Linked DNA regions of Homo sapiens: regions 1, 2, 3 and 5 are each linked to region 4. The links come from fine-mapping of genetic effects on gene expression. A gene starts in region 4. Each other region holds a variant in brackets. All regions are shown on one strand. Distances are between the middles of the regions.

Region 1 (4,119 bases), 50 kb after region 4:
GTGTCTACTGAAGAAAGAGAACAGTTTTCCAGTTAGTAGCATAGGTTAATAGGAGCTATCACCTGCTGTTGGTTTGAATGTGATGGGCACAGCTGAGGGAAAAGGGACCCCATGCCCCCAATATTGAGTGCCTTCTCCAGATATTGTCACACCGGATCTATTAAACACTTCGAGGTGTTCTTTAGCCCTAAATTAGATGAAACATTCTAGAAAGTGGCAAAATTGATGAATTTCAGATTTTTCTCTAAAGCTTGAGAGCTTTACATATCCTTTATAAGCCTGCTTGTGAAAGATATTGTTTTTAATACATGCTTTAATGTTTTCAGGGCTTGTCATCAGAATATTGATACAATTTTTTTTAATGCAGTAGGACCCAAACTAGAAATGAATTACAACTATTGGGAAAGAAAAAACTATTGTTATTATTGCAGATGATATAATGGTCCAAGTAGAAAGCCTGGGAATCTCATCTTAGAATTAATATGAAATTAGCAAAAACCTCCAGATATCCAAAAGTTAATAGACAAAGGTAGCTTTAAGATATAATTGTAGTATATCACCATTTGTTGTGGCAACAAGCTTTGTCACATTTATAGACAAACTGAGCATGTGTGCAGAAACTATACAAAGATAACAGAAGACCTGTATAGATGGAAAAATACACTGCTCCTAGCTGATAAAATGATTTTTTTGTTTGTTTTTTGTTTTTTGTTTTTTTGAGACAGAGTTTCACTCTTGTTGCCCGGGCTGAAGTGCAATGGCATGATCTCGGCTCACCACAACTTCCGCCTCCTGGGTTCAAGCAATTCTCCTGCCTCAGCCTCCGGAGTAGCTGGGATTACAGACATGTGCCACCATGCCTGGCTAATTTTGTATTTTTAGTAGAAACGGGGTTTCTCCATGTTGGTCAGGCTGGTCTCAACCTCCCGACCTCAGGTGATCCGCCCGCCTTGGCCTCCCAAAGTGCTGGGATTACAGGCGTGAGCCACTGTTCCCAGCCCTAAAATGAAATATTTTAAACATTTCTTCTATTTGTGAATTAACTGAATGCAAGTCTATTAATGTTCTCAATGGCTTGAGAGTATCCTAAATTTCATCTGAAAGATGTGCAAGAATAGGAATATTTTGAAAGGAAAGTCATGAAGTCTTAAGATACTAGATATAAAACCATATTTCACAGCTAAAAAATATTGAAAATGTACTAATAGTTTACATTTGAACCCTTAGACCAAGGCAGTAGTAGCCCCGAAATAGATGTGAGTATAAATAAAATGTTCCAAAAATCCTAGGAACATAAGGAAGGTAAACTTTTGGAGAATACTAGATTATGGCTTTATAATGTACACCAAAATCCAGATGAAAAATATGAAAATAAGCTAGAAGAACATACTAGTGACTATCTTTGGATGGGTGACTGAATTTTCCAAATAAAAGCAATAAGATTCATTAAGGAGCAGATTATATATTTAAAAATATATATCTTCTGAATATGAGAAAGTAAAAGGCAAATGAGATTAGAACATTTGCCTACAGATTTTGGAAGAGGGAGGCTTAATACCTTAATATGGAAATGATTTATGCTAATATTTAAAACCAGTTATATTGAGATAATTCACTTATACAGTTTACCCATTTAAAGTGTATATCTAAGTGGTTTTTATTATAACCATTACCACAATCCATTTTATTTTTATTTGTATTTTAAATATGGAGACAGGTTCTCACTATGTAGCCCAGGCTGGTCTCAAACTCCTGAGCTCAAGCGATTCTCCCACCTCAGCCTCCCAAAGTGCTGGGATTACAAGCATGAGCCACCACGCCTGGCCCATAATCAATTTTAGAACCTCTTCATCACCCCAAGAAGAAACCTTGTACCCTTTATAGTCACTCCCCACAACTCCCTCATACTAACATAGTTGTTTTTTTTTTTTTTTTTTTTGAGACGGAGTCTCGCTCTGTCGCCCAGGCCGGACTGCGGACTGCAGTGGCGCAATCTCGGCTCACTGCAAGCTCCGCCTCCCGGGTTCACGCCATTCTCCTGCCTCAGCCTCCCGAGTAGCTGGGACTACAGGCGCCCGCCACCGCGCCCGGCTAATTTTTTGTATTTTTAGTAGAGACGGGGTTTCACCTTGTTAGCCAGGATGGTCTCGATCTCCTGACCTCATGATCCACCCGCCTCGGCCTCCCAAAGTGCTGGGATTACAGGCGTGAGCCACCGCGCCCGGCCCATAGTTTTTAAACATGAAGACTCCAAGAGAAAAATGAACAAAGGATGTAACAATTCATAGAAGTACAATAAGAAATGGAAATGGCTAATATGAAAAATTATAATTCAATAAAGATGATTCAAATTAAAAGAAAATTTCTGTATCAAATTACCAGTTTTGGTGTTTGGTTTTTTAAAATATCCTTGATACTTGAGAGACCATATTGAGAAATAAGACTACATATAATGTGATCTCATTTATGAAAA[C/G]TATTGAACAGAAAGGAGCATTCAGAATTTCCTGAAGTCACATCTTCATATTTTGAGAATGACTCCTTCCAGCTCCATAAAATTGTTGCCAAATATGTATTTGGAGCTTTTTCCACATATGGTTTGCCTTAGGGAGTCTTATGCTCCCCAGCCCCAGCCTTTATTTAGGGGAGGAAGGAGCCATGATTTCTCTCCTCTCACCTACTGACAGGCATGTTTTAGATGTAACCATTAGTGCTTAGCCGTGTCAAGGTCCTATACTCTGATTAACCTTGTAAGATAGCCCCATTGTATACCCACAGTGAAGAGAACCTTTTGCAGCAGTAGCCTGAATAACCAATCCTATAGGCCACTGGCACTCTCCATCTGACTACAAGAGCTGAGGATGATTAGATTGGCAGCAGTTTTGCCTCTAGCTCCTTGGAACGTATCTATGGGATTTCATTTTCTGATATCCAATACATGTTGATTTAATTGCTTGTTAGGTGAGGGTGGCCTGTTTCCTTGAGCTGCATGCCAGTGGGAAACATATGTTCCCCTTCAGCAGGAGGACTCCAGAAGATTCATACTCTCCAGTAGCCTCCATCCGAACATATGACTGTGGGAGTAACTTGGATGAGCAGTATTGGTGCAGGAGGAGGATCTTGTTTAACTAGATAATTTTGTGCATTTCATATGAAGGTTTATTGACCTTTAAGATATAGAAACCGGTGTTTTTTGTTTTGTTTTGTTTTAATTTCTGCAAAACACGGATACCACTATCACTGGCTTAAACATTATTGGGTATTTATAATTTATTTCCTTTGCCATTAGACTCATTAGTAAACGCTTCCTGGCGCAGTTAGAATTCCCTTAATTGACTTGATGCAAAGAAGATGTGTTTTCTCTTCAGGAAAGCTTTTCGTGCCCCTCCACTCAAAGGAGAATGCCCCTTTAAGTATGTTCCTCAAAGCCCACTGCGCTAATCATGGCAACAGCTGGCATTTGTTGAGCATTTACTTATTGCATGTTCAAAGCACTTTGCATGTATTACCTCCTTTCACTCCATAACAACCTTGGGAATGGGCACTACTTATAAAAAATTGGCCCAATTTACAAAAGAGCAAAGAAAGGCATGAATCCATAATAAACGCTTGAAAAAATGTTTTTCTCTGATCCATTCATCTCTATTTTACCATTTTAACCATCCACCTTCTTCCCCAGAACCTGGCCTGCTGTGAGTGCAGCACATCTCTTTGAGACAGGGTGTCACTCCATTGCCCAGACTGGAGTGCAGTGGCACGATCACGGCTCACTGCAGCCTGGACTTTCTGGGCTCCAGCAATCCTCCCACCTCAGTCTCTAGAGTAGCTCAGACCACAGGCATGCGCCACCATGCTTGGCTAATTTTTGTATTTTTTTTTTTTTTATAGAAATGGGGTTTCGCCATGCTGCCCAGGCTGCTCTCAAACTCATGAGCTCAAGCCATCCACCCGCTTCAGCCTCCCAAAATTCTGGGATTACAGGCGTGAGCCACCACGCCTTGCCTGCATTTCTTGTTTAAAGCAAGATGTGCTGGCTGGGCGCTGTGGCTCACGCCTGTAATCCCAGCACTTTTAGAGGCCAAGGCGGGCAGATCACCAGGTCAAGAGATCGAGACCATCCTG
Region 2 (4,119 bases), 89 kb after region 4:
GAGTATGTTTAGCTTTATCAGAAACTGCAAAAAGTGGTTGCACCATTTTGCATTCCTACTGTTACTGGCAGCAAATCCTTAGGGATCGGCAGCAACCTCAATTCTTGCCCCCTCAGAAGAAAGAATTCAACCCAAAAGGCATAAGGAATGAGAGAAGACCAAGACAAGTTTTAGGGCAGGAGTGAAAGTTTGTTAAAAAGCTTTACAAGAGAAATTAAAGGAAGTAAAGTACACCTGAAAGAGGGCCAACCCGGCAACTTGAGAGATCAAGGGCACTGTTTGACCTTTGACTTGGGTTTTTTTTTGTTTTTTTTTGAGACGGAGTCTCACTCTGCTGCTTAGGCTGGAGTGCAGTGGTGCCATCTCGGCTCACTGCAACCTCCACCTCCTGGGTTCAAGTGATTCTCCTGCCTCAGTCTCCCGAGCAGCTGGGGTTACAGGCACCCGCCACCATGCCCGGCTTATTTTTGTATTTTTTTTAGTAGACATAGGGTTTTACCATGTTGGTCAGGCTGGTCTCGAACTCCTGACCTGAGGAGATCCGCCTGCCTTGGCCTCCCAAAGTGCAGGGATTACAGGCGTGAGCCACCGCACCCAGCCTGACTTGGGGTTTTATATGTTGGCATGATTCTTTCTTGGGGTGGGCTGTCTGCATGCACGGTGGCCTGCTACAACATGTGCAGTGTATTTACTGGAGTTGTATGCATGCTTACTTGAGGTAGTCTTCCCTTACCCGTTGAATGCTTCTAGAAGGTCTTATACCAGTTAAACCACCATTTTGCCGCTTAGTGCTCATGTTTGAGCCCACTCGCCCAACTCCTGAGATCTTATCGGGAAGCTGCTGATCACGCAAGTTTTTTTCTGTCTACTGGGAGACTACCTTTCCCTGGCGCTAGCTGGCATCAATTATTATTTTAGAGAAACAATGTAACAGTCACCTGACCATCACCTGATGATTGCCTAACATTCCTGGTGGGGTTGGGGGAGCCCTCTCCTGCCCAGCTCATGTCTGACTAGCTACCCACTATAACAGAGCTAGCATTGTATACAAGTGACAATTGTTCTGCATCTTCAACAGCACTTAATATTATCATTTTTAAAAGTCAGCCATTCTAATAGATGTGTAATGGTATATTACTGTGGTTTTAATTTGCATTTCCCTGATGCAAACTGAGTTTAGCATCCTTTCATGTGCTTATTTGCCATCTATATACCTTCTTTAATAAAGATCTTGTTCAAATGTTTTGCCCATGTTTTTACTTTTATCTTTTCTTACTGTTGAGTTTTGAAAGTTCTTTATATATTCTGGATGTGAGTTCTTTGTTGTATATGTGTTTTGCCCATGTATCCTTCATAGCCTGTGGATTGTCTTTTCATTTGCCTAAAGCTACCTTTTATGAAGCAAAAGATTTTAATTAAAAAAAAAAAAAAACATAGAGACAGGGTCTTACTATGTTGCCCAGGCTAATCTCGAACTCCTGGGCTCAAGCAATCCTCCTGCCTTGGCCTCCCAAAGTGCTGAGATTACAGGCGTGAGCCAGGCGTGAGCCAGGCGTGCCTGGCCCAGGATTTTAATTTTGGTGAAGTCAAACTTATCACTTTTTCTTTCATTGATTGTGCTTTGGTTGTCAAACTGAACAAGTCCTTTCCTAACCCAAGCTCACAAAGGTTTTCTTCTAAAAGTTCTAAGTTTTCCATTTAGATCTGGGCTCCATTTTAAATTAGCTTTTTTTTTTATAACATAGGAGGCATAGGAAGAAATGCAATGTTTTTGCTTATGGATGTCTGATTTTTCAGCACCATCAATTGAAAAGATCATCCTTTCTTTGAATTTCCTTTGTCCCTCAGTCAAAATGGGTAGAGCTGATTTGTGTGGATCTGCTTCTGGACTCTACTCTGTTGCACTGATTTGTGTTTGTGATTTCATGTCTCACCAATATCAAACTATCTTGATTACTGCAGCTTATCACAGTAAGTCTTGAAGTCATAAGTATAAATTTATCATCTGTTTTTCTTTTGCAAAATTGTTTTCTCTAATCTCTTTCCTTTGCCCATCATATAACTTGTAGCATCAGCTTATCCATATATACAAAAAATTTCTGATATTTTGCTTGAGACTGTGTTGAACCTATAGATCAATTTGGGGAGAATTGACATGTTAATATTGAGTTTTTCCAATTCATAAGCTCACTCTTTTAGTTTTCTTTTAAGACTGAAAAATTGCTAAGAAGAGTGGTGTTGACATGACAGGTTTAAACCAGTGTTTTTGCCTTATGATCCATTAGTTGGCTGGGAAATGAAATTCAGTGAATCAGAGTCATCATTAGAAAATGAAATAGAAGAACCATACCAGAGCATAATGCACATTACAAAGGTGAATATTATTTCATTAAGTTTTCTTTTCCATTTTCTCTAAAGTTATGTAGATGCATGTGTGTGCTAGGTTGCCATGCAAAGTTTGTTTCTTACTCTAAGTC[G/A]TAGCCTAAAATGTTTTTGATCTTAGATATAATTCTGAAGATAGAGTCATCTTCTGTAGTGAATTTTTTTCTTTTTGAGACAGTATCTCATTCTGTTGCCCAGGCTGGAGTGCAGTGGCCTGATCTTTGTTCACTGCAGCCTCCACTTCTCCCGGGTTCAGTGATCCTCCCAACTCAGCCTACTGAGCAGCTAAGACCACAGGCATGAGCCACCATGCCCAGCTAGTTTTATTATTTTTGCCCAGGCTAATCTTGAACTCCTGGCCTCAAATGATCCTCCCCCCTCGGCCTCCCCCAGTGCTGGGATTACAGACATGAGCCACAGTGTCCATCTGTAAGTTCTTATAATTTGTTGTTGTTGTTGTTATTTATTTCTTATTTCATAATAATAAACTTAAGTCTGCAATCCAGCTGGGCATGGAAGGAAATAAGGAAAATATGGAACCCAAAAGAACTGAAGTGAGAACACAAAGATTATAGGATACTATGAGCAAATGGGGTGGAAAGGTGCTCTCCTGAGCTACAGAAGGAATGGTCTGGTGGTTAAGATAAAACACAAGTCAAATTTGTTAGAGTTGTCCACAGTCAGCAATGGTGATCTTCTTGCTGGTCTTGCCATTCCTGGACCCAAAGCGCTCCATGGCCTCCATGATACTCATGCCTTCTTTCACCTTGCCAAAGACCACATGCTTGCCATCCAACCACTCAGTCTTGGCAGTGCAGATGAAAAACTGAGAGCTATTTGTGTTGAGTCCAACATTTGCCATGGACAAGATGCCAGGACCTGTATGCTTCAGAATGAAGTTCTCATGATCAAATTTCTCCCCATAGAGTGACTTGCTGCCAGTGCCATTATGGTTTGTGAAGTCACCAGCCTGACACATAAACCCTGGAATAATTCTGTGAAAGCAGGAACCCTTATAACCAAATCCTTTCTCTCTAGTGCTCTGAGCATGAAAGTTTCTGCTGTCTTTGGAACTTTGCAAACAGCTCCAAGGAGATTCTGCTTAAAAGCTCGCTGATGATGGCGATGTTGAAGAACATGATGGGGTTGACTATGGCTGGTGGCAGAGGGCTCTGGGAGGCATCGGCGTCTGCAAAGCCGAATTTGTATTAATTTCATGTTGCCTCAGCATTCATTTTCAATATAAGTTGGAGTCACTCATACTAGAAGCAGGGCTTAGACGTCTTTGACACAGATTGCAATTCTTCCAAACTCTACCTCTTCCCAGTTCCTCAAGGTAGGTCAATCCAGATACGCGCTTTATACAACTGCCTCCTGGTGACCACCTTTTTATGGGATGGCTAGATGCAACCTACTTGACTTACCCCACTGACCCCCCACGCCGTGGGTGGACTGCCCAGATATGCCACAGTGATCACCTCTTGGTCACAGTGTGACTTCATGGACCTTGTACCTGCTTGCTATAAACCCACCAATTAGAACTCATCATGGGAAACCTGCTTGGGTAACATGCTGGACCAGAATAAAGGCTTTGCCCCAGAGGTCTCTTTCTCTCTCTCTTGCTATCCCCCTGCTGGTTAAGTGTGCATGTTCCAGACAGCTTTCCCCCTTTCTTTTGGCCCTGCAAGGCGTGCTGCCCTCTTCCCTTTGGAATCTGTTAGTAATATACTGCTCCTC
Region 3 (4,119 bases), 25 kb after region 4:
GGATCAGCATTTTTCTTTTAGGTTGCTAGAGCCTTAATTCCCACAGGGCAGTATGAAGAGGGCCAAGTGATAACTACAAACAGTGGGTTGCATTATGGGAAAGAAACCCTGAGCTTAGAGAAGCCAAATCTTTTATAGTGGGCAGTAAGCATGCTGTGCTTTGCCCCAGGTAACATTGTCTTTATTATATTGTCAGTAAGAAGGTTTGCCCTTTGCTAGGGAGGGAAACACCATCTCTGTCTTTCTAGGCTGTTTGCTATAAAAATAGCCTTGAAAAAATTATCTGGAACAAAAAGACAGTGCCTCACTTGCAAGATGTACAGAAATGCAAGCCACCCATGGCGAATTGCCTCCCAACAAAGAGTTGTACTTACGAAAAACAGCATGCTTCTCCCAATGGCCCCCCAAATCTCCTACTCCCTAAAACTCCATTGTCCATTAGAAATATAATGTGAGAAATAAAATTTTCTAGTAGCAGCATTAAAAAAAAAAGAATCAGGGCTGGGCGTGGTGGCTCCATGCCTGTGATCCCAGCACTTTGGGAGGCTGAGGCGGGCGGATCACGAGGTCAGGAGATCGAGACCATCCTGGCTAACACGGTGAAACCCTGTCTCTACTAAAAATACAAAAAAAAATTAGCCGGGCGTGGTGGCAGGCGCCTGTAGTCCCAGCTACTCAGGAGGCTGAGGCAGGAGAATGGCGTGAACCCAGGAGGCAGAGCTTGCAGTGAGCCAAGATTGCACCACTGCACTTCAGCCTGGGCAACAGAGGGAGACTCCATCTCAAAAAAAAAAGAACTGGTAAAATCTTTTTTTATCCTTTTGAGACAGGGTCTTGCTCTCTTACCCAGGCTGGAGTGCAGTGGTGTGATCATGGCTCATTGCAGCCTCAATCTCCTGGGTTCAGGTGATCCTCCCACCTCAGCCTCCTGGGTAGCTGAGACTACAGGCATGCGCCACCACACCGGGCTAATTTTTTTTTTTTTTTTTTTGGTAGAGATGGGAGTCTCACTGTGTTGCCCAGGCTGGTCTCAAACTCCTGGACTCAAGTGATCCTCCTGCCTCAGCTTCCCAAGGTGCTGGGATTATAGGTGTGAGCCACTGCATCTGGCCAAATTAACAGTATATTATCTTTAATCTAGTATATCAAAATTTTATAATGTTAATATGTAAACAGTATAAAAAAGTGAAATATTGAAATGATACATGTGTCTAATATTTGTATTACAATGTAATAATAGTATCTTACATGATGTCATTAAAGTGAAATATAGTCCTACCGAAACAGTAATGTGTTTAAGGGAAAGACATTTAATACTGCTTCAAGTTTTAAAATGTAAATAATTAAAATTTTAAAAAAGTATTTGTTGAGACTAGCCTCATTTCAAGTGCTCAGTAGTTGCATGTGACTACTAGCTAACATTCTCTACTGCATAGCCCTGAAGTTAACCATTTTCAACTTTTTACAGATTTCTTTAGGTGTGTATTTTCATATCTCTAAATAATAATGCTTATATGGTTTCTAAATTATTCAGCTTTAAGTTCTTTCTACTATTAAGGAGGGGTTTTTTTTTTATTGTTTTTTGTTTTAATAGAGACAGGGTCTTTCTCTATCACCCAGTCTAGAGTGCAGTGGTGCAATCATAGCTCACCGCAGCCTCGAACTCCTGGGCTCAAGTGATCCTCCCATCTCAGCCTTCTGAGTAGCTGGGTCTACAGGCGTGCACCACCACACCCAGCTAATTTTTAAATTTTTCTTGTTTTTGTAGAGATGGTATCTCACCATTTTACTTAGGCTAGTCTCAAACTCTTGGGCTCAAGTGATCTTCCAACCTCAGCCTCCCAAAGTGCTACGATAACAGGCACAAGCCACCACACCTGACCATTAAGGAGGGTTTAATTCTCTTTCAACCAAAACCCTCCACCACACTTGCACTCATTTCCTGGCTGTCTCTCATCCCCAAAGTCAATGATTCTGAAAAACTTTTTGTCGTGTGTGTGTATTTTTAAATATGAGATGGGGTCTTGCTATGTTGATTCAGGTTGTTCCAGGCTGATCTGGAACTCTTGGGCTCAAGTGTTCTTCCCGCCTCAACCTTCCAAGTAGCTGGGATCGTAAGTGTGTGCCACCATGCCTGGCCTGAAAACTTTTTTATTTCAGCACTGTTTATACTTTAAAAAAATCACTGAGGATCACAAAGAGCTTTTGTTTATGTGGGTTATATCTATTGGTATATATTCTATCAGAAAGTAAAACTGAGGCTGGACATGGTGGCTCACGCCTGTAATCCTAGCACTTTGGGAGGCCAAGGCAGGAGGCTTGCTTGAGGCCAGGAATTCAAGATCAAGTTTAAGTCCAGCTTGGGCATCATAGTGAGACCCTATCTCTACAAAAATAAGCAGCCAGGTGCACCTGTGGTTGCAGCTACTTGAGAGGCTAAGGTGG[A/T]AGGATCCCCAGGAGTTTGAGCCTGCAGTGAGCCAAGATAATGACATTGTACTACAGACTGGGTGATGGATTGAGACCCTGTCTTAAAAAAAAAAAAAAGAGAGAGAAAGCAAAAAACTTAAGTATTACTTCTGTGAAAATAACAATGATAAGCCCTTTATTTTAACATAAGTAATTTCTTGTGAAAATCTTTTCAGAAAAATTGGAAGAATAACAGTGTTTTTGTATTTTTGCAAATCTCTTTTACTGTTTGACTTAATAGAAAATACCTGAATTCTGATACTTCTGCACTTATTCTGTTGAAAACAAACACATCATGTAGACCCTGGAAAACTGCGCCGTATATAACACAGAGGGAGTGAAAAGGGTGCAGAATGGCCTAGTATTATTATGAAAATAGTTTTGAGACCCTCTGTATATTGTCATGCTTTTTGTTTGACCACAACTCAATGTTTATATTACTATAGCCATGTATAAACTGAGCATAGCATACCATGATTGCTTTTTTTTTTTTTTTTTTCTGAGATGGAATCTCACTCTGTTACCCAGGCTGGAGTGCAGTGGCACCATTTTGGGTCACTGCAACCTCCGCCTCCCAGATTCAAGTGATTCTCCTGCCTCAGCCTCCAGAGTAGCTGGGACTACAGACTCGTGCCACCACACCCAGCTAATTTTTGTATTTTTAGTAAACACGGGGTTTCACCATGTTGGCCAGGCTTGTCTCAAACTCCAGACCTCATGATCCGCCCACCTTGGCCTCCCAAAGTGCTGGGATTACTGGCGTGAGCCGCCGCGCCCGACCATGATTTCTTTTATTGTACATACTTGTTGGCATATTTTACTCACTTGTACTCAATGGCATTTTTTCATATTGTTTGTTTATTATATGTACTTTTATGTTTTTTGGAGATGGAGTCTCACTCCGTCACCCAGGCTGGAGTGCAGTGGTGCTATCTCGGCTCACTTCAACCTCCACCTCCCAGGTTCAAGTGATTATCCTGCCTTAGCCTCCCAAGCACCTGGGATTATGGGCGCATGCCACCACACCCGGCTAATTTTTTGTGTTTTTAGTAGAGACAGGGTTTTGCCGAGTTGGCCAGCCTGGTCTTGAACTCCTGACCTCAAGTGATCAGCTTGCCTCGGCCTCCCAAAGTGCTGGGAGGCCTGCATTTTACTTATTTAATTCTGGCCTGCACCTGGCCTGCATTTTACTTATTTAATTCTGAACTCTACCTTAGTTATCAAAATCTCTTCTAAATCCATTAATTTACAGCAGGGGTTCTCTGTTTCTCTCAAATATTTTCTGGAGCTGTTTACTTGCTTTAATTAAGGACTGGTTTCTTCCTAGTACTCCCACACAACCATCATCTTGGGATCTGTCTTTGTAATCCTAGGATTTCTGTTGCCTCTCATTTATATTGGGTCCCTTGATTACTGGATCCTGTCTCTTCCTTTTTTTTTTTTGAGACAAGGTCTCACTCTGCTGTCACCCAGGCTGAAGTGCAGTGGCTCAGTCTCACTCATTGCAACCTCCGCCTCCCAGGTTCAAGTGATTCTCCTGCCTCAGCCTCCCAAGTAGCTGGGATTACAGGTGTGCGCCACCACATCTGGTTAATTTTTGTATTTTCAGTAGAGATGAGGTTTCGCCATATCGGCCAGGCTGGCCTGAACTCC
Region 4 (4,119 bases):
CTATATTTTATTTTTAATTAATTAATTTATTTATTTTTGAGATGGAGCCTTGCTTTGTCACGCAGGCCAGAGTGCAGTGGCACGATCTCAGCTCACTGCAACCTCCACCTCCCGGGTTCAAGCGATTCTCATGCCTCAGCCTCCTGAGTAGCTGGGACTGCAGGCACACGCCACCGCAGCTGGCTAATTTTTGTATTTTTAGTAGAGACGGGGTTTTGGTATGTTGGCCAGGCTGGACTCAAACTCCTGACTTCAGGTGATCCACCCACCTCGGCCTCCCAAAGTGCTGGAATTACAGGCATGAGCCACTGTGCCCAGCCCCGGCTATACTTTAAACTTATGTTTAGCAATTAACATGTCAGTATTTTAACTTACAAATGACTCAGACATTTAATGAATATCTATTACTTAATTTAATATGTTCGAAATTTCAAGTCACCAAAAAAGATTTTTAAAACTATTTTTAAGTAGACAAATTTTATAAAACAAATTATTTTTAAAAGTTTATAAACTTTTATTCCATTTACATTTACCTAATCTACTTGCTCTTAACAATTATGCTTGAATTGCTCATGAAAAATTTCATGAGATATTAAACAAAGCTAGCCATTGAAGGAGTTCAGGAGTTTTTCCCAAAATCATTTCCTCTCCCCTAAATTGTCCCTCCCCAATGAAGAGGATACACAAGCTCCTAAAATCTCAGTTTTTGTTGGGGGAGGCAGAGGGAATATTAGTTTTTCTTTTCTGTGATACCCCCTACACGAAATCTGTGTACTTTTTCTCTTGTTAATCTACCTGCAGTCAATTTATTTCATAGACTTAGTTATCCAAGCCTCAGAGAGTAGAGGGGAAGTCTTTCTTCCTCTATACCATCATCTTATGTTAATTTTTGTTGACAAATCAGGCAAGTGTCAAACATATCACAGTCTAATGGCCTCTGAGTTGGATTTTTTTTTTTTTTTTTTTTTTTTTGAGATGGAGTCTCGCTCTGTTGCCCAGGCTGGAGTGCAGTGACACGATCTCGGCTCACTGCAAGCTCCGCCTCCCGGGTTCACGCCATTCTCCTGACTCAGCCTCCCGAGTAGCTGGGACTACAGGCGCCCGCCACCACGCCTGGCTAATTTTTTGTATATTTAGTAGAGACGCGGTTTCACCATGTTAGCCAGGATGGTCTCGATCTCCTGACCTGGTGATCCGCCCGCCTCGGCCTCCCAAAGTGCTGGGATTACAGGCGTGAGCCACCGCGCCCGGCCAGAATTTTTTTTAAACAACATGGAAACAAATAAGACCTCGTTCTGTTTTCTAGGAGCTAAAAATCCAACGAAAGAAGACACAGACACAATATTCCCCTTGTTACAAAGAGAACTGTGTCAACTTTTATAACTGACACAAAGATCTGTGCTATAAGGGCGGGGAAGGTTTTTTCCTACTTTCCACAGCACTGTGGATTGTTCCACAGTTTAATTTGATCTTAATTTTTATGTGGAAATACACATGAATGTAATGAGTTCTTAAATGCTAAATTTAGGAAGCAAGGTTCGTTAGGGGAGAGAAAAAAACACCTACATGGTTATCTCTAAACTTTACATATCGAGAACCTTGGAATTTAATTTTATTGTTGTTCTGTAACATATTTTCATGTTTAAAATCAGAAAAGGCAGCATTTCTCGAGTTTCCTGCTTTCGAGGAAGGGAGGCATAAAATGTTTAAAAAGACGCCGCTCACACACCTCTTAAGAATCAGAGCACAGTGAGGAAGAGGAGCGAGGAAGCACTAGGATCGCAGCGCTACTCCCAGACCACGTCAGTGCCCAGAGGGCGCCCTCGCCTGTAGGCGGGAACCGCGAGTCCGCAGCAAGTCCCCAGCCCCGAGCTCGCGCAGGTGGGCGAGGCGGGGACGTGGTGGGCGGGGCCTAGAAAGGCGGGGCCTCTGGGGGCGGCCCCGGGGCGGGCCACGCTGGTGTGAGGGCTGCAGGCGCAGCTCCGGAGCGCCTAGAGCGCGGCGCGGGGCGGGAGCTTGGTGGAGCAGGAGCGGCTGGGCATCCTCCTGAGACTCCGGGGTCAGACGCCCACTCCAGGTAACCGGCTCTCCCTCGTGTTCCCCTGCTCGGCCGCCCGGCGGTGGGGGAAGGCTGAGAAGGATGGGTGGGAGGGAGCCGGCTCTCAGCCAGTGCCCCGTGGCCCCGGGCGGGCTGGGCTCCCCCGCGGAGGAGGAAGCAGAACCGGGGTGCGCCCGGGACCGGAATGGAGCGGCGCCTCTTCCTTCCACCTTCATTTTCCGTCCGCTCAGTGGGGCTGGGACGCCGGTGCCCCGTGTCCCCTGAAAGTCACTTTCTGGCCTCTTGCCCCTGGTCCGTGTAGCTTAGATGTCGGAGGGGTTGGCTGCGGGCGTGGATAGGCAGGGAACGAACAGACTCGCTGCCATCCCATGGGTGCCAGGGGCTTAACTTCATTTAACTTCATTGAATCCTAACGCCAGCCCGGCTAAGATGCATTTTCACCCCTACTTTACTGATAAAGAGGCCAACGCTAGGATAATAAATGACTCACCCTGGAGCAAACTATTACTAATAAGAAAAGAGACGTTAGTTTAGGGGCTCCGAAGCCTCTCCTTTCCTGCTCCCTCGCTTTCCTTCTTCTCGCGGCAGTCTAGGAAACTCGCGCGCAGGGTCTATTACGAAAACAAGTGATTCGTCTTAAAAGCATTTTACCCCCTCCTAGGTTTCTCTTTCCTCTTTTTTTTAAGTATCTCAGGCAGATTCCTCCAAGTTTTGGTTATTAGGTTTTTGAAATGGAAGAAGCCCTTGCTCACTGCTTCTTTTCTCCTGGCAGCGCTTTCTGCGCAGCACAGGCACCCTCGCCTGTCACGCCTCCCTCTCCTCTTCCCGTCTCCCAGCGTGGATGAGGGCGCCTGCAGATCCCGGCTAGGGCACGGACCGCCTAGGCCGAGGTAGGTTCTGTAGGCACCTGGCATGCTGTAGATGCATATAAACGTTGCCCTGTACACCCTTTGCCTTGTTATTTCTTTCTGCAGAAAAGAGAGTCGGTTTTTTACACATAATGGGGCAAGAGGCCAATTGGGAAGATATATGGTGTTCAAAGAAAGCCGTGGTGCCTTGAGATGAGAATGCGGCCACAGCTTTTTGTGGGCTGAATTTGATGGGTGGGAGGTGAGAGACGTGGTCTGGAAGTTGTCTCTTCGTCTGGCATTCTGCCCCCCTTCCAGAGCTGTTCTGAAAGGCCGGTTTGTTTTATAGAGGGGAGGAGGAGGGCTTAGTAGTTTTTAAAGATCAGTGTAAATTACCTGCTAGGAGCTTAGGCAATTCCAGGCAGGCCCCCCTGCTGGAGGCTTTCGTAACAGATTTCAGTTCTAGCAGGGAGGAAAACTCAGACTGTGTAGATACCTGCTTTTTCTTAAAGGAATTTTTTTCGGGCCCTTAAAATGGTAGTTTTGGGAAACTGATTTCTTAGAAATGGCAAACTCCTTTATTTTAAAATACAATATACCAAACTATGAATTTACTTTTAAAAAGTTTTATTGGCCGAGAGGTTGATATTTTTTCCATTTCATGATGAGGGTTTGACGGTCACTGCCACCTCCTCTGCCCGTCCTTCAACTTGGCCCTGTAAAGGATCTCCTTAGCCTTGGCCCCAAGTTTGTACTAGATTCTATCCTTCATTAATTATAGTTCATTCTTGATTAATGATAGCAATGCTTCCACTCACTTTTTAAGGAGTTACTCCTTTTCCGTTTGTAATTGAATTGCTTAACAGTAAGAAAAACGTTTTTCCCTAAAACTGGGATCACAAAATCCACTTTATCCACATGGACTAAACAGGTAATGCACAAGAGTGCTTGGTTGGGCCCAGGTGACTGCAGAGGAACCTGCTAAGGCTGGGTGGATATTGGCCATTTCCACCGAGTATCCATGCAGGAATTCCCATTCAGCCATACAGTGTAGGCAGCTTTTTTTTTTTTTTTTTTTTTCCACGAATAGCTGAGAACTTTTACTTAAAAATAAAAAATGTAAAGCCTGATTTTAAATATTGGCTCATATTTTTTCCTTTTTAGAACACAAAGAGGGCCGGGCGCAGTGGCTCACACCTGTAATCCCGGCAC
Region 5 (4,119 bases), 69 kb after region 4:
GTAAGGACAGACACCCTTCATTCCTTTGAGGCACATCCTTTTATCCTTGTCTAGGATCCCTGGTGAGGTCTTCTGACTCTTTCATGCACCACTCAAGACCAATATAATCTTCTCTCATGCTACTTCTGAGCCATGAGGAACCTGGAAGGAGGGCATCTCTGTCCTTTTCGTGGGACAAAAAAGTGAATGTAGGAAATCATATCAGCTAATATCACATATCATCCTTCCATACCTGTAACACATATACAGGAGTTAAACACAATAGCAAGAAAGAAATTCCTTCAATTAGGCTGGGTGCGGGGGCTCATGCCTATAATCCCAGCACTCTGGGATCCAAGGCAGGTGGATCACCTGAAGTCAGGAGTTTTGAGACCAGCCTGGCCATCATAGCAAAACCCCATCTCTACTAAAAATACAGAAATTAGCTACGTGTGGTGGCAGGTGCATGTAATCCCAGCTACTCCGGAGGCTGAGGCAAGAGAATCGCTTGAACCTGGGAGGCAAAGGTTGCAGTGAGCCAAGAGCGTACCAGTGCACTCCAACCTGGGTGACAGAGCAAGGCTCCGTCTCAAAAAAAAAAAAAAAAAAAAATCCTTCAATCAAATTCCCCAGTTCTTACACAGATACCTCACAATAGTGGTGTTATTGATATTTTTGGGTAAGAGGAAAATCTTTCTTTTGCCCAACTATCCCTACCTTGCAAGACTTTTAGCATTCTTTGACCTTGCCCACTAAAAGACAACAGTTTAAATAAAATTTTTAAAAGATCATTAGATATTTTGAAATGCCTCCAAATGGAAAAAAATTGGCCTGCTTAAGAACTGCTGTACTAATGGTCTCCCAACTGTTTCACAGGTCTCAGGGAAGGCCACAGAAGGCTTCAGTGGCTGAATAGAAAAGTAGGTGGTTGAGGGGTCAGCCTCCTATCCTTGCCTCAGAACACAGAACATGCCTCAGGGCAAAGTGACTGACTTCGCAGGCTGTGATGATAGCTGTTATATTCTTTTCGAGAGAGGGGATTTCACTGTCACCCAGGCTTAAGTGTAGTGGTGGGAATCATAGCTCACTACAGCCTCGACCTCCCAGGCTCAAGCGATCCTCCTACCTCAGCCTCCCAAGTACCTGGGACCACCACATGTGGCTAAGTTTTTAATTTTTATTTTCGTAGACATGAGGTCTCGCTAAGCTGCCCAGGTAACTCCTGGGCTCAAGTGATTCTCCCACTTTTGCCTCCCTAAGTGCTGGGATTACAAGCATGAGCCACTATACTGGGCCCCCCATTATATTCTTCATAAGTAAAAGCATATCCAGAAATTTTCATTTCCAGTTGATCTTTACGCTGCTTTCTTGACCATTTCTCTGAAGGTGCCTGGAGCAAAAATGTGTCCAGAATTGGTGGGTTGTTGGTCTCGCTGACCTCAAGAACGGAGCCGTGGACCCTCGCGGTAAGTGTTGTGTCCCGAGTTTGTTCCTTCTGATGTTCAGATGTGTCCAGAGTTTCTTCCTTCTGGGGGGTTGCTGGTCTTGCTGACTTCAGGAGTGAAGCTGCAGACCTTCGCAGTGAGTGGGCGGCGCATCTGGAGTTGTTCGTTCCTTCCAGTGGGTTCGTGGTCTCACTGGCCTCAGGAGTGAAACTGCAGACCTTTGCTGTGAGTGTTACAGTTCATAAAGGTGGCACGTCCAGAGTTGTTCGTTCCTCCCATCTGGAATTGTTCATTCCTCCCATCTGGAATTGTTCATTCCTCCCATCTGGAATTGTTCATTCCTCCCATCTGGAATTGTTCATCCCTCCCCGTGGGTTCATGGTCTCCCTGGCTGGCTTCAGGAGTGAAGCTGCAGACCTTCGCACTGAGTGTTACAGCTCATTGTTACAGCTCATAAAGGCAGCGTGGACCCAAAGGGTGAGCAGCAACAACATTTACTTCTAAGAGGCAAAGAACAAAGCCTTGGCAGAGTAGAAGGGGACACAGTTAACCAAGTAGCCACTGCTGCCTCAGGTGGCGTGGCTTTTATTCCCTTATCTGGCCCCACCCACATCCTATTGATTGGTCCATTTTACAGAGAGCTGATTGGTCCATTTTACAGAGAGCTGATTGGTCCGTTTTACAGAGAGTTGATTGGTCTGTCTTGACAGAGTGCTGATTGGTGTGTTTACAAACCTTTAGTTAGACACAGAGTGCTGATTGGTGCGTTTACAATCCTTTAGCCAGAGGGAAAAGTTCTCCAGGTCTCCACCCAACCCAAAAGCCCAGCTGGCTTCACCTCTCAATGGCACTGGCCGCCAGGACTTTTGGGCACCTACCCCGGGCATTCCGGCAACCCAGAGGGAGCTCGTACCTGGATCAAGCCCAGCAGGCGC[C/T]GAGTGTGGGACCCGCTCCCAGCCCGCGCCCACCTGGAACCCGTGCTGGCCCACTAGCGCCACAGCCCCAGCTGCCGCCCTCGCCTCTGCCTCCACACCTCCCTGTGAGCAGAGGGAGCCGGCTCCCGCCTCGGCCAGCCCCAGAGAGGGGCCCCCACAGCACAGCTGCGGGCTGAAGGGCTCCTGGAGTGTGGCCAGAGCAGATGCTGAGGCCAAGGAGGCACCGGGAGTGAGCAAGGGCTGCTAGCACGTTGTCACCTCTCAAAACCACTTGAGCTTTACCATCCAACATAATATCCTTTCGTTATCTCCTCACTATAGTTCTAGAACTATCATTTGCACATTTTATGTTAGATATGATGGATCAAAATTGTTTACCAGAACTTAAATGGTAAAAAGAGGCCATATTAATTACATACTGCATTGACAATATTGATGATGCTTTGTTTCAGATATACTATATATCGATGTTAACTGCTTTTGAAATATTTGAAAATTAGCCAGGTGGGATGGCTCACATCTGTAATCCCAATACTTTGGGAAGCCAAGATGGCAGGATCGCTTGAGCGCAGGAGTTGGAGACCAACCTGGGCAACACAGTGACACCCTGTCTCTATATTTAAAAAAAAAATTGAAAATTGATACTTGTTTTTGAAATACTTGGCTTTATACATGTGTGTATAATAAAAAACAAGTATCTGCTTTGTGTAGGGCAGCACCAAAGTGGTATGTGTACATTTTCCTGGAAGAACGGAACATTGGAGGAAAAAGTGTTTGGATGCCGTGGGACAAGAGACAGGATTGAATGGGAGAGTGGAAGATAGGATGTTGTCTGTTCCTCAGCCCAGGCTCAGAGACCAGTAATTCACTGGAGTTACTATTTACATGAAGGACTTTGGGAGGCTCCAGGTACAAGCACAGATGTTTCAGGACTTCAGTGAAACATATTACCCTGATTTATAGACGGAGAAGCTTCCCCCTTCCTGGGTGCCTGCAGCACAGCTTTTAACACTGGGTTGGGATGGAAGGTTCTCCAGTGCTGTGTGGGCACCATGAGGAACTGAAAGTTTGGAAACAGCACCTAGATAAAAAGGCTGAAGTAGACACCAGCTAAAGTAATACTAACGAGGCATCTCCTAACAGGGCTTCTTGGCAGTGGAAAGGAGCAGCACAGAAAAATCTGACTGGGGCTGGGCGCGGTGGCTAACGCCTGTAATCCCAGCAGTTTGGGAGTCCAATGTGGGCGGATCACCTGAGATCAGGAGTTCGAGACCAGTCTAACCAACATGGTGAAACCCCATCTCTACTAAAATACAATTAAAAAAAAAAAATCAGCCGGTCGTGGTGGCACGCACCTGTAGTCCCAGTTACTCGGGAGGCTGAGGCAGGGAAATCACTTGAACCTGGGAGGCAGAGGCTGCAGTGAGCCAAGATTGCGCCACTGCACTCCAGCCTGGCAACAGAGCAAGACTCCGTCTCAAAAAAACAAACAACAGCAACAAAAAAACAAGAATTAGCTGAGCAGGGCGGCGTGTGCCTGTGGTCCCAGCTACTAGGGGGACTGAGGCAGGAGGATCTCTTGATCCCAGGAGGTGGAGCTTGCAGTGAGCCGAGATGGACCTACTGCACTCCAGCCTGGGTGACAGAGTGAGACTCCCATCTCAAAAAAAAAAAAAAAAAATCTGATTGGCCTTGGTACTGAGCACTTGGAAGGGGTCTCTAGTTATGGCTGGGGAAGCTTTAAAAGGTGGGCTGAGATC

The links. PIP is the estimated chance that this variant, and not a neighbour inherited with it, causes the effect.
Region 1: its variant is fine-mapped to the expression of GCNT1 in whole blood (INTERVAL, PIP above 0.99).
Region 2: its variant is fine-mapped to the expression of GCNT1 in whole blood (INTERVAL, PIP 0.96).
Region 3: its variant is fine-mapped to the expression of GCNT1 in whole blood (INTERVAL, PIP above 0.99).
Region 5: its variant is fine-mapped to the expression of GCNT1 in whole blood (INTERVAL, PIP above 0.99).

What each region holds. Positions count from the first base shown.
Region 1 is chr9:76,507,686-76,511,804 of GRCh38, forward strand. No RefSeq gene overlaps it. Among named protein-coding and RNA genes, the nearest start is that of GCNT1, 51 kb to the left of the region's middle. RefSeq lists an enhancer at 3,465-3,965. The variant C/G (reference allele first, on the strand shown) is at 2,474.
Region 2 is chr9:76,546,236-76,550,354 of GRCh38, forward strand. It overlaps the pseudogene PPIAP87. Among named protein-coding and RNA genes, the nearest start is that of GCNT1, 89 kb to the left of the region's middle. The variant G/A (reference allele first, on the strand shown) is at 2,478.
Region 3 is chr9:76,481,840-76,485,958 of GRCh38, forward strand. All of the region lies in intron 2 of GCNT1 (glucosaminyl (N-acetyl) transferase 1), which reads left to right. Among named protein-coding and RNA genes, the nearest start is that of GCNT1, 25 kb to the left of the region's middle. The variant A/T (reference allele first, on the strand shown) is at 2,446.
Region 4 is chr9:76,457,229-76,461,347 of GRCh38, forward strand. GCNT1 (glucosaminyl (N-acetyl) transferase 1) reads left to right here and starts at 1,954. Exons shown (of 4, transcript NM_001490.5): 1 at 1,954-2,077; 2 at 2,832-2,949. RefSeq lists silencers at 1,739-2,278, 3,269-3,338 and an enhancer at 2,889-2,998.
Region 5 is chr9:76,526,451-76,530,569 of GRCh38, forward strand. No RefSeq gene overlaps it. Among named protein-coding and RNA genes, the nearest start is that of GCNT1, 69 kb to the left of the region's middle. The variant C/T (reference allele first, on the strand shown) is at 2,360.